Regions from separate parts of the Homo sapiens genome. Here all the other regions are linked to region 1. The links come from fine-mapping of genetic effects on plasma protein levels. Region 1 holds a variant in brackets. A gene starts in each other region. All regions are shown on their forward strands. Distances are between the middles of the regions.

What was found. PIP is the posterior inclusion probability: the model's chance that the variant is causal. Protein levels are from antibody-based Olink assays in UK Biobank. Linkage for the fine-mapping came from a reference panel and not from the study's own genotypes, which makes the PIPs less certain.
Region 2: it holds the start of BMP10, and the variant in region 1 is fine-mapped to the plasma level of the BMP10 protein (UK Biobank, PIP 0.99).
Region 3: LRP1 starts here. The variant in region 1 is fine-mapped to the plasma level of the LRP1 protein (UK Biobank, PIP above 0.99).
Region 4: it holds the start of GDF2, and the variant in region 1 is fine-mapped to the plasma level of the GDF2 protein (UK Biobank, PIP above 0.99).

Annotation. Positions count from the first base shown.
Region 1 is chr10:69,095,755-69,098,254 of GRCh38, forward strand. It overlaps SRGN (serglycin), which reads left to right. Exons shown (of 3, transcript NM_002727.4): 2 at 1,330-1,477. Among named protein-coding and RNA genes, the nearest start is that of SRGN, 8.9 kb to the left of the region's middle. The variant C/G (reference allele first, on the strand shown) is at 1,453.
Region 2 is chr2:68,869,772-68,872,517 of GRCh38, forward strand. BMP10 (bone morphogenetic protein 10) reads right to left here and starts at 1,626. Exons shown (of 2, transcript NM_014482.3): 1 at 1,254-1,626. The coding sequence starts at 1,587. RefSeq lists a silencer at 1,442-1,602.
Region 3 is chr12:57,127,002-57,129,747 of GRCh38, forward strand. It overlaps LRP1 (LDL receptor related protein 1), which reads left to right and starts at 1,482. Exons shown (of 89, transcript NM_002332.3): 1 at 1,482-2,030. The coding sequence starts at 1,964. RefSeq lists an enhancer at 489-1,142.
Region 4 is chr10:47,321,220-47,323,965 of GRCh38, forward strand. It overlaps GDF2 (growth differentiation factor 2), which reads left to right and starts at 1,235. Exons shown (of 2, transcript NM_016204.4): 1 at 1,235-1,795. The coding sequence starts at 1,450.

The DNA.
Region 1 (2,500 bases):
ACTAAAAATTAGCTGGGCGTGGTGGTGAGTGCCTGTAATCCCAGTTACTCCAGAGGGTGAGGCAGAAAAATTGCTTGAACCCGGGAGGTGGAGGTTGCCATGAGCCGAGATCGTGACAGTGCACTCCAGCCTGGGCGACACAGCAAGACTCTCTCTCAATAAAATAAAATAAAATAAATACATAAATAAATCTCCTATATAACCTCATAATATCAGATTTGGAGCCTTTTCCATAGAAATGAAATTCAGAAGAAGCTGAGACTCAGATATTCCAAGCTGCCTGGTGCTCTGTGAATAGAGGAGACTTGTTCTTGTGAAATCTGAGTGCAAAGACACAGGACAAATTGTTATCTACTTTTCATTCCTAAGGATACTGTATGGCCCTAAAACACAAGAACTAGAATTCTGTGATACCACGGGTACTCCACAGTGTGTTCCTTCCCCTTTCTGAACCTGATTTGACTCATCTCTATGAAAAGATGTGGGCTTTGGGGTCAGATGTGGGTTGGAATCCTAGCGCCTGTGTGGCTGCAATTTTCTTTTGTGTAAAATTGAGATAATAGTACAAAAGTAACAACAGTTAATATTATCAAGTGCTTACTGTGTGCCTGGCACTGTGTTAAATTCTCTAAGTGTATTTTCTCATTTAATTTTTGTGATAGGCTTATGACACTATTAGTATCTTCATATTACAGTGAGGGTTCAGAGAAGTTAAGGTTCCATAACTAGTCAGCAGACCTGGGACTTCACTCCAGGCAGCTGATTCCAAAGCCTATTCTAACTTTAAACTGCTACTTTTTGGAGTGTTGTAAGAAGGACAATTTATATAAAATGTTGGCACATAGTGGGTGCTGCTGTTATATGAATGGGCACAAAATCTGTCTACATTTTGCCTTTTACCAAATTTAGAATCTATTTAGTTAAAACCTTCTTAGGGCGGGTGGGGTGCAGTTGCTCATTCCTGTAATCTCAGCACACTGGGAGGCCAAGGCAGGAGGACTGCTTGAGCCCAGGTGTTTGAGACCAGCCTGGGCACATAGTGAGACCCCCATCTCTCCAAAAAACAAACAAACAAACAAAAACAAAACAAAACTAGCTGGGCGTTGTGGTGCCCCTGTATTCCCAGCTACTCAAGAGGCTGGGGTGGGAGAATGGCTTGAGCCCAGGAGTTCAAGGTTGCAGTGAGCTATGATCACAGTACTGCACTCCAGCTTGGGCAGCCGACTGAGACCCTGTCTCGAAAAAAAAATAAAAATAAAAACTTCTTAGGACAGAGTGATTAGAAGCTGTGTAGTAGATACTTAGTAACAATGTGGGTTCCTCGGGCAGGTTATCCTACGCGGAGAGCCAGGTACCAATGGGTGCGCTGCAATCCAGACAGTAATTCTGCAAACTGCCTTGAAGAAAAAGGACCAATGTTCGAACTACTTCCAGGTGAATCCAACAAGATCC[C/G]CCGTCTGAGGACTGACCTTTTTCCGTAAGTGGACTTTTCTCTAATTAATTAATTAATTACTTATTTATTTGAGACGGAGTTTCACTTTTCTTGCCCAGGCTGGAGTGCAATGGCGCAATCTTAGCTCACTGCAACCTCCGCCTCCTGGGTTCAAGCGATTCTCCTGCTTCAGCCTCTGGAGCAGCTGGGATTTCAGGCGCCTGCCACCATGCCCAGCTAATTTTTTTTTTTTTTTTTGAGACGGAGTCTCAGTCTGTCGCTCAGGCTGGAGTGCAGTGGCGCAATCTCGGCTCACTGCAAGCTCCACCTCCTGGGTTCACGCCATTCTCCCGCCTCAGCCTCCCGAGTAGCTGGGACTACAGGCACCCGCCACCACGCCCGGCTAATTTTTTTGTATTTTTAGTAGAGACGGGGTTTCACCTTATTAGCCAGGATGGTCTCGATCTCCTGACCTAGTGATCCGCCCGCCTTGACCTCCCAAAATGCTGGGATTACAGGCGTGAGCCACTGCGCCTGGCCTAATTTTTTGTATTATTAGTAGAGACGGGCTTTCATCATCTTGGCCAGGCTGGTCTCAAACTCCTGACCTCAGGTGATCCACCCACCTTGGCCTCCCAAAGTGTTGGGATTACAAGCATGAGCCACTGTACCCGGCCTTTTCTCTAATTTTAAAGTGTCTGTAATTTCACAACCTCTTGGCACAGATGTGGGAGTGTTTTTCTTCAAGCTGTCCAGAGTGTTTTGCTTCGAGCTCTTGCTTTGGTAGTTTGGCTCTTACTCTGCAGTACATGGTAAAAGTGTACTGTATATACTGGCATATGACATGTGCGAGTATACATGATTCACCTATGTTTTTGAAATTTTTTTTGTGGATGGTAGAGAGGAGCATTGAGGACTTTTCATCAACAGGTATTGAAAATGATTGAACATTGTTTTATTTGTGTAAACAGAACACACTATATATAAAAATCCAATAATTAACTGAATGGATAAGCAAAATGTGGTATAAGCATACAAAGGAATATTATTGGGTCATAAAAAGAATGA
Region 2 (2,746 bases), not on the chromosome of region 1:
AACTCAATTTTAAAGGGAGATAATATCTTAGGGACTAAGGAATACCTACTCAACATTTATTCCAGTACCTAGAATATTAAGTAACTCATTAGTAGTCACTAAAGTTTGATCAGCACTTCATAGTAAATGGAGTGCTTTCTTATCTGTAACCTCCTTTGAGTCACTCAACTATGTTATGTAGGTATTATTACTCCCACTTTATAGATGAGGAAATTGAGGCTCTGAGGCATCAGCTAATTATTCACAACCACTAAGCCAACTAGCTCTCAAAATCCCAAATCCTGAGCTATTTCTTCACTATTACCTTTCTTCTTTCAAGAACATCTGGCCAATATTAACGGGAAGCTTCTTTTATACCTGGTTAGTGACTATAAAAGCATAACTGGCAAAAATTAAATTAGTTCCTTTGGACCTTCAGCTTCTACTATAGATATCTAGATATCAGGGGTTTTTTTTCCTACTAGGACCATATTAACCAAAAAACAAACAAACAAACAAACAAACAAAAACATTAACTTGCTAGCTCATTAGATTTAGTTACCAAATTTAAAGACCTAAGAGAAGAAAACACACTTTTCCCACCAATAATTCAAAGCTTGTACGTTGCTCTTTATAAAGACGGAAATGATGAGCTGGATGATTAATGGGCCATCTACACTTCCTGGAAACTGTAAACAGTGCTTTAAGGATGTACATGACACATCAAACAACACAGCCTTAGGAAGAATCTTTAAAATATATTTCCATCCTGTTTGAACATTTCTTAAATAAGGTCACAAAATAAAAACTTATCAAAAGTTTGAACAAAACACAAATCACAATTTGATGTTTTTTGACTGTTTTTACCCTTTTTATTCTAAGTAGAAGTTGAGAAATTTTTTAGTTAATTAAAAGCCCATATGGCAATCAAGGCCTATTTGGAAAATGACAAAGGTACGGCAGTAGACCAACATTAATTCTTTGTATTACTTGGTGTTCAAATTAACATTTTTTAAAAGGACCCAATTATGATGTCAAATTGATAGATGTTTTGTGGCTTTGGATTAAAAGATGTTTGTAAGTATTTTTCGAGGTTCCTGAAATGACTATATAATTGGTATAGAACAAAATGTGCCTTGTTTTTGTGTATCCATATGTATTTAACATCCTTATATAGATGTATTTACCCTTACCTATATCATTCCCATGCATTGTAAATTTACTTATTGTGTCTTGAAAAAAATCCTAGCAAAATTTCATCAGCAAAAACTTACCTTCATTCTTGAAACTCCTAATGATGTTGGCAGAGGGCATGGAGGTCCGATCTGTTGCAAATTTGTTGTAGAGTTCCAACATGTACTCTGGTGGGTCCACCTTGGCTGAATCCTGCGTGGGGATGTCAGAGAGGTTTAGTGTCTTAAGAAACTCATCCTTCATGCTCTGGAGCAGTGTGTTAAAGTCGACACCGTCTTGCTCTGAGAAAACATCACCAAAGAGGGACATATCTTCTTCCAGAGGAGACTGCTCTAGGTTCATGATGGGGCTGCCAGAAACCAAGTAAGCTGCCAGGCAGAAAAGAGCGCACAGTGTCAGGACCAGAGAGCCCATGACTCCGCTCGAGCTCCTAGGCCAAGCCAGGAAGGTTTAGCTTCCCTGGGCTCTAAGTGGCAGTTTTATCTTGTGGAACGTAAATGTCTCCTGTCACTGGAGACAAGTTTGGAAACTCTTCCTCTCTCTCTCCCTCCCCCTACCACTCTTCCTCTCCCCCTAAAAGTCAGGTTGCAGTAATTGGATAACAAAATCCCCTATAGGGGCCTAGCCTTTCTTATCTCCCTAGTGTAAACTTGTGCACCAGAATTTGTTTCTATCTTGCAATCCCTATTTCTTTTAATGAGCATTTTGTAAACATTTCCACATTCTGACACTGGTTGAGAGATAGGACAATTTTCTCTTTGCAAAGGCTCTGCTTCTCTTCCCTTCAATTCACTTCCTTTCAGCAGGAATGCCTAAATTCTGTTTTTATGGGGCTTAGTTTCACACATGCATATAATAGGTATAAGAATCAACATAATGCACATCAATGGTGATACATGTTAATTTGAGAGGTAGGGCTCAGATAAACACTTGTGAAGACAGACCAAATATCCAAACTTTCCAAGTTTAAGTTAATAGCTATAAATGAATTATATAAATTTTTAGAAGTGTACCTTTTTAGAAACAGGAAAGTATAAACTTCATGATTGACAGGCTTTTTCCTACCTATTTGATCTGGCTAAAATAGCATTTGAAAAATAGGGCAAGTGCTTAGTTATACTGGCAACTAGAATTTATTAGATGCTTCCTACAAACAGGCATTGTACTGAGTGCTTTACACCTATCATCAAGTGTGCTCCTGTAATAACCGTATCATTATCTCCATCACATATATGGGTCAGTGAAGTGCCATAGCTTGCCAGAGGCCACAAAGTTGCAAAGTGATGGGGCCACAATTTCAACCAAGGCAGCCTGATTCTTATGAAGAATAAAACAGTCACACTTTTAAACCACTCTTCTACCAGACTAGGGCATGGGCAATAATGCTGAGAGGCCAACACGTCCCCAGATCAGCCTGGAGGCAGGAGGCAGGCAGAAATTTGTAGCTGGATGTGGACCTCAGGTCCTCCATCTGTGCAATGAGTTGTTAATATAACCAACATCTCTGCGAAATTCATCCTTCTGACTCAATCAAAATTGTCATCAAGAGGCTCCAGCAAAAGCTTGGTGTGAT
Region 3 (2,746 bases), not on the chromosome of region 1:
AAAATGACAAGCCTGGAGCACAGGCTGGCAAGATTGGATATAGGAAGGAAAGGCCCCCTTGAGTTGGCATAAAGTCTGAGGTTTCTAGCCCAGGAGACTAAAGGCAGGTGGCCACCGCGCTGAGCAAAGCCGGCTGGAAGAAGCTAAAGGTTGAGCTCACTGTCATTAGGAGGCAAGTCCTTCGTGCTGCTCCTGTTTCTGCCAAGGACAGACTGGAGTGGGGACTTTTCCGTAACTAGAACGTAAAAGGGGGAACAGTCCCTCCTCTCCAGCGTCAATTTTTGGCAGCCGACGTCGTCTGCCCCGCTCCTTGAACTCTGACATGCAGACACCTAGAAAGTCAGACACTAAGGTAACAGCCATAAAACGCCGCCCAGAAGGGGGCAGTGACCAAAAGCACGTTCACTGGCCCCTGGGAACCGCCTGGCGCCTGCCTTCTGCAAAGTATCATTCCCGTGTGGGCTGAGCCTGGGGACAAAGGTCCGGCGCTCAGCAGACACCTCCTTGGAACCCGAGGCCTGGAAACGAAGGTCCAGAGTCCCTCATCTTATTCCAAATCCTGGCGCTCGGAATCTAAAACCCTAACTTGATGGCAAGCCAGTCAGAAGGTATTAAAAAAAAAAAAAAAAAAAAAAACAGAAAAATAAATGAGCCCCGACTTCTTGGGCGAAAGGGGGTGGCCTTTCCTCAACCCCACCCGCTGGTGACTCACCTCCCTCCAAACCAGGGCCTGCCCCTCCCGCGCCTAGGGCTGGGCGAGCAGGGCGGGCGGGTACTAAGGTGGGCTCCATCCCCGAGCCCCACGCGGGCGGACAAGCTCCGGCGTGTCCCCTCGGGTGTCCCTGTTTACTCCGAGCCCGGGAGCGAGGTGGGGGCGGGTCCTCGCGGTCCCTCCCCAACCCCGCCCCCTCCTTCGCAGGCCCCAATCCCAGTCCGGTCTTCCAAAGTCTCCAAATCAAAGCTCAGCCTTTCCCTGCACCTTCCCCGCGGACTGGCGGTCCCTGTCCCCACCCCGGGCAGAGGAGGCACCTTCAGGGTTCCCCTAGAAAATCGAGCCTCGGCCCAGACCACTGAGTCCCGGACGCCCCCGGAGGGAGCCTGAAATCCTAGAGTATGACACTGAGTTTCAAAGGGGAGCCGCTCAGCTCTCCGCCCACTGCCCAATCCCACCCTCGACCCCTTCTGCTCTCTGGAGCACCAGGGAGGAGGGCCCAGCCAGGGGAGAGGGCGCCCCAGGCCCCAAACTAGCCAGCGAGTCCCCGGGACCCTCACTCTTGGACCGCTTTCCAGAACTCCGAACCCTGTCGCGGGTCCGCGTCGCCCTCCCCCGGGCAGCGCGTCAAATCGGCGCATGCGCACTCACTGGATTGCCGCGTAGCTCTTTCTCCCCCCACCCACCAACCTTTTTTCTTTCCCCGCCCCTTCCCTCCCTCCCTCCTCAACCCGTCCCCTCCCTCTCCCCCATCAGCCCCCCCCTCGGCACTTCAGTCCGGGGAACAGCGGTGCGAGCTCCAGGCCCATGCACTGAGGAGGCGGAAACAAGGGGAGCCCCCAGAGCTCCATCAAGCCCCCTCCAAAGGCTCCCCTACCCGGTCCACGCCCCCCACCCCCCCTCCCCGCCTCCTCCCAATTGTGCATTTTTGCAGCCGGAGGCGGCTCCGAGATGGGGCTGTGAGCTTCGCCCGGGGAGGGGGAAAGAGCAGCGAGGAGTGAAGCGGGGGGGTGGGGTGAAGGGTTTGGATTTCGGGGCAGGGGGCGCACCCCCGTCAGCAGGCCCTCCCCAAGGGGCTCGGAACTCTACCTCTTCACCCACGCCCCTGGTGCGCTTTGCCGAAGGAAAGAATAAGAACAGAGAAGGAGGAGGGGGAAAGGAGGAAAAGGGGGACCCCCCAACTGGGGGGGGTGAAGGAGAGAAGTAGCAGGACCAGAGGGGAAGGGGCTGCTGCTTGCATCAGCCCACACCATGCTGACCCCGCCGTTGCTCCTGCTGCTGCCCCTGCTCTCAGCTCTGGTCGCGGCGGCTATCGACGGTGAGTGAGATTCCGCGTCCCCCTTGGACCCCTGGGGGCACCCTCTCCCCAGCCCCCACTCCTGCATACGGATGGGGAAGGGAGACGCGGGAGGGGGTGCCTTTTGTTATCCCAGTCCAGCTGACACAGCAGCGGCCCGACTGGGGGCGGGGATGGGGTCCGATTTGGGGGATGGGGGCCCTGGGCAAATGATGCTTCCGGGGCCCCCCAGCACAAACAAAGACCAGAGGCCTGGGTAGAGAGAAGAGGGCTCCCCATTTTTCTGATCCTGGGGAGGAGAGGCCTTCTTTTCCTATCTCTGTTCGGGGAGGGCCTCCGCCTCCCCTACATCCTCACAACCCCCCACCCCCCATCTGAATTGTGAAGGAATCCGGATTTGCAATGTTCGGCTGCAAAAGGGGGTGGGGGTGGGGGGGGTGGCTTTTGCACTGGCCTCTGTAGCTCGAAAGGGGAGCCAGGCCAGGGGTACCCTGCCGGGCAGAGGGCAGGCAGGCCCGGGAAGGCTGTGGGTGGGGAGAGGGAGGGCCCCCTGCTTGGGCGTGGAATCGACCCCAGAGCCCCGGCTGGAGGCCTGGGTGCTGAAGTAGGCTCTTCCCCCTCTCAGGGCCTCTGTCAGTAGCCTGGGGTAGGGCTGTGTTGGGGGGCAGAGAGGGGGAGCTCGCCATACTATGTGACTTTGAATTTTCCTTCTTAATTCCTGGGAGCTTTGAGATGAA
Region 4 (2,746 bases), 22 Mb before region 1:
AAGTTCTATTCAGGCCCAGCCATTCAGGGGCTCCTGATTTCACCCATCCCCCTCTGCAATCTCTGACCGCAGCATGCTGTGGCCCCTCCTGCACCCCCCTAAACCTGCTCAGCTCTCTGCAGCCTCTCCCGGACAGCCTCACCAGCATAGAATACCTTCCCCAGAGTAAACCACCAGGCACAGCATACCCCAGAGTGTTTCTAACCATGATCCTTCTTTGCTTTGCTCAAAGCCACACGTGATGGAAATGGACAGAGTCTAAGTGTGGACATACTGCTCTTAACGCAGTCCCTGGGGCCCTTTCCTGGGCCACAGCTTATCAGCCTCCAAAGGCCAGGGGATCATCTTCTTGGCATGTACCACTCTCAGAACAACCCACCTACTCCCCTGTCTACCAGATTGCGTGGTTCTCCCTGCTGATGAGTGTGGGCCAGGTGGCTGCCAGGTTGGTGTGAGCTAAGACCACCCCACAACAGACCAGTGACACAGCTGGGATGCAGGGATGTGGGGAGCTCCCCACAGGCTGCAGTGTGTTGTGGAGCTCCGACAGAGCAGGCTGGGGGAACCCAGGGCTTCCTCCCCCAGCTCCAGCTCAATCAGGCCTGGGCTGGAGAGGGGGCATCCAGAATGCAGCCACCAAGCCAGCCTGGGGCACAGCATCCTCTTAACCCCTATAACTATCTTCTGAATGGGAGGCTCCAAGAGCTGCAGTGACTTGTTCCAGGTGACATTTGCAGGGAATCGGTGAGGGAGTTGAGATCCCAGCCTGTGTCTAGTTTGACTCATCACCGCACTAAATTGCACGGGAGCCATATTCACTCGTGATCTCTAATGCTCAGCAGTGCATCCCACCAACAGAGCAGGGAGGCTTGCTGGCAGGTTCCGATTCTGCAAGGAGCAGGCCTCTTCTGAGCCCTGATGTGGTCCCCACACTCTCCCCATCTCCCCAGCCCCCACGGTTCACTGTGATCTTGTGCTGTCCTTTCTATATTTGGAGGACTACTTGGTCTTGTTTCCTGGATTCTTCACTCCTGTGGCCCAGGAGATGGAGCATATGTCACCCTGCCTGGAGATTCTTCTGAAGAGCCCTGGCAAGGAAATGAGAAAGTATCCTAATTAGGGGGCAATAACCCCCTGGAGAAGCACAGATTCTTTACAGTAGGCCGTGTCCTTCCCGCATGCCCTGTGTGTTTGTCAGATGTTTATAGAGCCTTCATTAACGGAAGGCTCCCTCAGATAAGACGTCGGAGCGCGGCATCGAGGACCAGATAAGCACAAGTGGAGGACAATCCAGCCCGGCAGCGGGTGAGAGTGGGTGCTGGCCAGGACGGTTCCTTCAGAGCAAACAGCAGGGAGATGCCGGCCCGCTCCTTCCCAGCTCCTCCCCGTGCCCGCTAACACAGCACGGCCGCCTGCAGTCTCCTCTCTGGGTGATTGCGCGGGCCTAAGATGTGTCCTGGGGCACTGTGGGTGGCCCTGCCCCTGCTGTCCCTGCTGGCTGGCTCCCTACAGGGGAAGCCACTGCAGAGCTGGGGACGAGGGTCTGCTGGGGGAAACGCCCACAGCCCACTGGGGGTGCCTGGAGGTGGGCTGCCTGAGCACACCTTCAACCTGAAGATGTTTCTGGAGAACGTGAAGGTGGATTTCCTGCGCAGCCTTAACCTGAGTGGGGTCCCTTCGCAGGACAAAACCAGGGTGGAGCCGCCGCAGTACATGATTGACCTGTACAACAGGTACACGTCCGATAAGTCGACTACGCCAGCGTCCAACATTGTGCGGAGCTTCAGCATGGAAGGTAGGGTCTCCGCTTGCACCATGCGCGCTGGGGTGGGACTCACAGGTCCACAGCTGCTTTCCCCAGGGTGGAGGCCACTGGCCATAGGAGGCTCTTCAAGCTTCCATTTAAATTAGTTACAATGAAATAAAATTAAAACTTATTTCTTTAGCCTCACCAGCTTCCTTTCAAATGCGTGGCTAATGGCTTCCCTATCAGGCAGTGCAGACTGAAGAACATTTCCATGGTTACTGAGAGTTCTACTCAGCACTTCTGTTGTGAAGGATTCACCTTCCCCAAGCTGTGTGCCACATTTCACACAGCAGGTGCACAGGGATGCCAGCTCTCTTTTTTCCACCCCTTCTCTTTACTCTCCTCTTCTTTGCATCACTCCCCTCTGATTCACTTCTCTTCCTTTCCCCCTTCCCTTCCTGTCCCCTTCCTACTTCAGAACAGAACAGGCAACCTATTTCACCTCCAACTAACTGGGATATTTTTAAATTTTCAAAGCACATCTATTCCTTTCTTATGAAACGGTTTTAAAAATCAGATAAAATTCTTGGACAGAGAAGTGTTGGCAGAGAACCTAATTGTTTTTAAATAGAAATATATCTGATTTAGAAGGACTAGAAGATAACAAACACGGACCTAGGACCTATGTCCTAACTCAGACAAGCTCACATGATGCAGGGGAAATAAGTTTCTGAAGAGCAAAACTGTTCAGTCAAAGCTTGCAGCCACCAAGGGTACCCACCCATGTCACCTAGGAAGTGTTAAGCCTGCACACCTAGGAAGTGTTAAACCTGTCTGCCTGCAGAGCTGGCTTTTCCTGCTGCTGCTGTCTCCCTCTGAATGTCCAGGAGCACAGAGCCTCTCCCTTCCTGGGTCTGAGACTTGCAAATGGCTAAGGGGCCTGGCTCCATACCACGCCCAGGCCAGACCTAACTGGTCTGCAGAGGCAGGACTGGCACT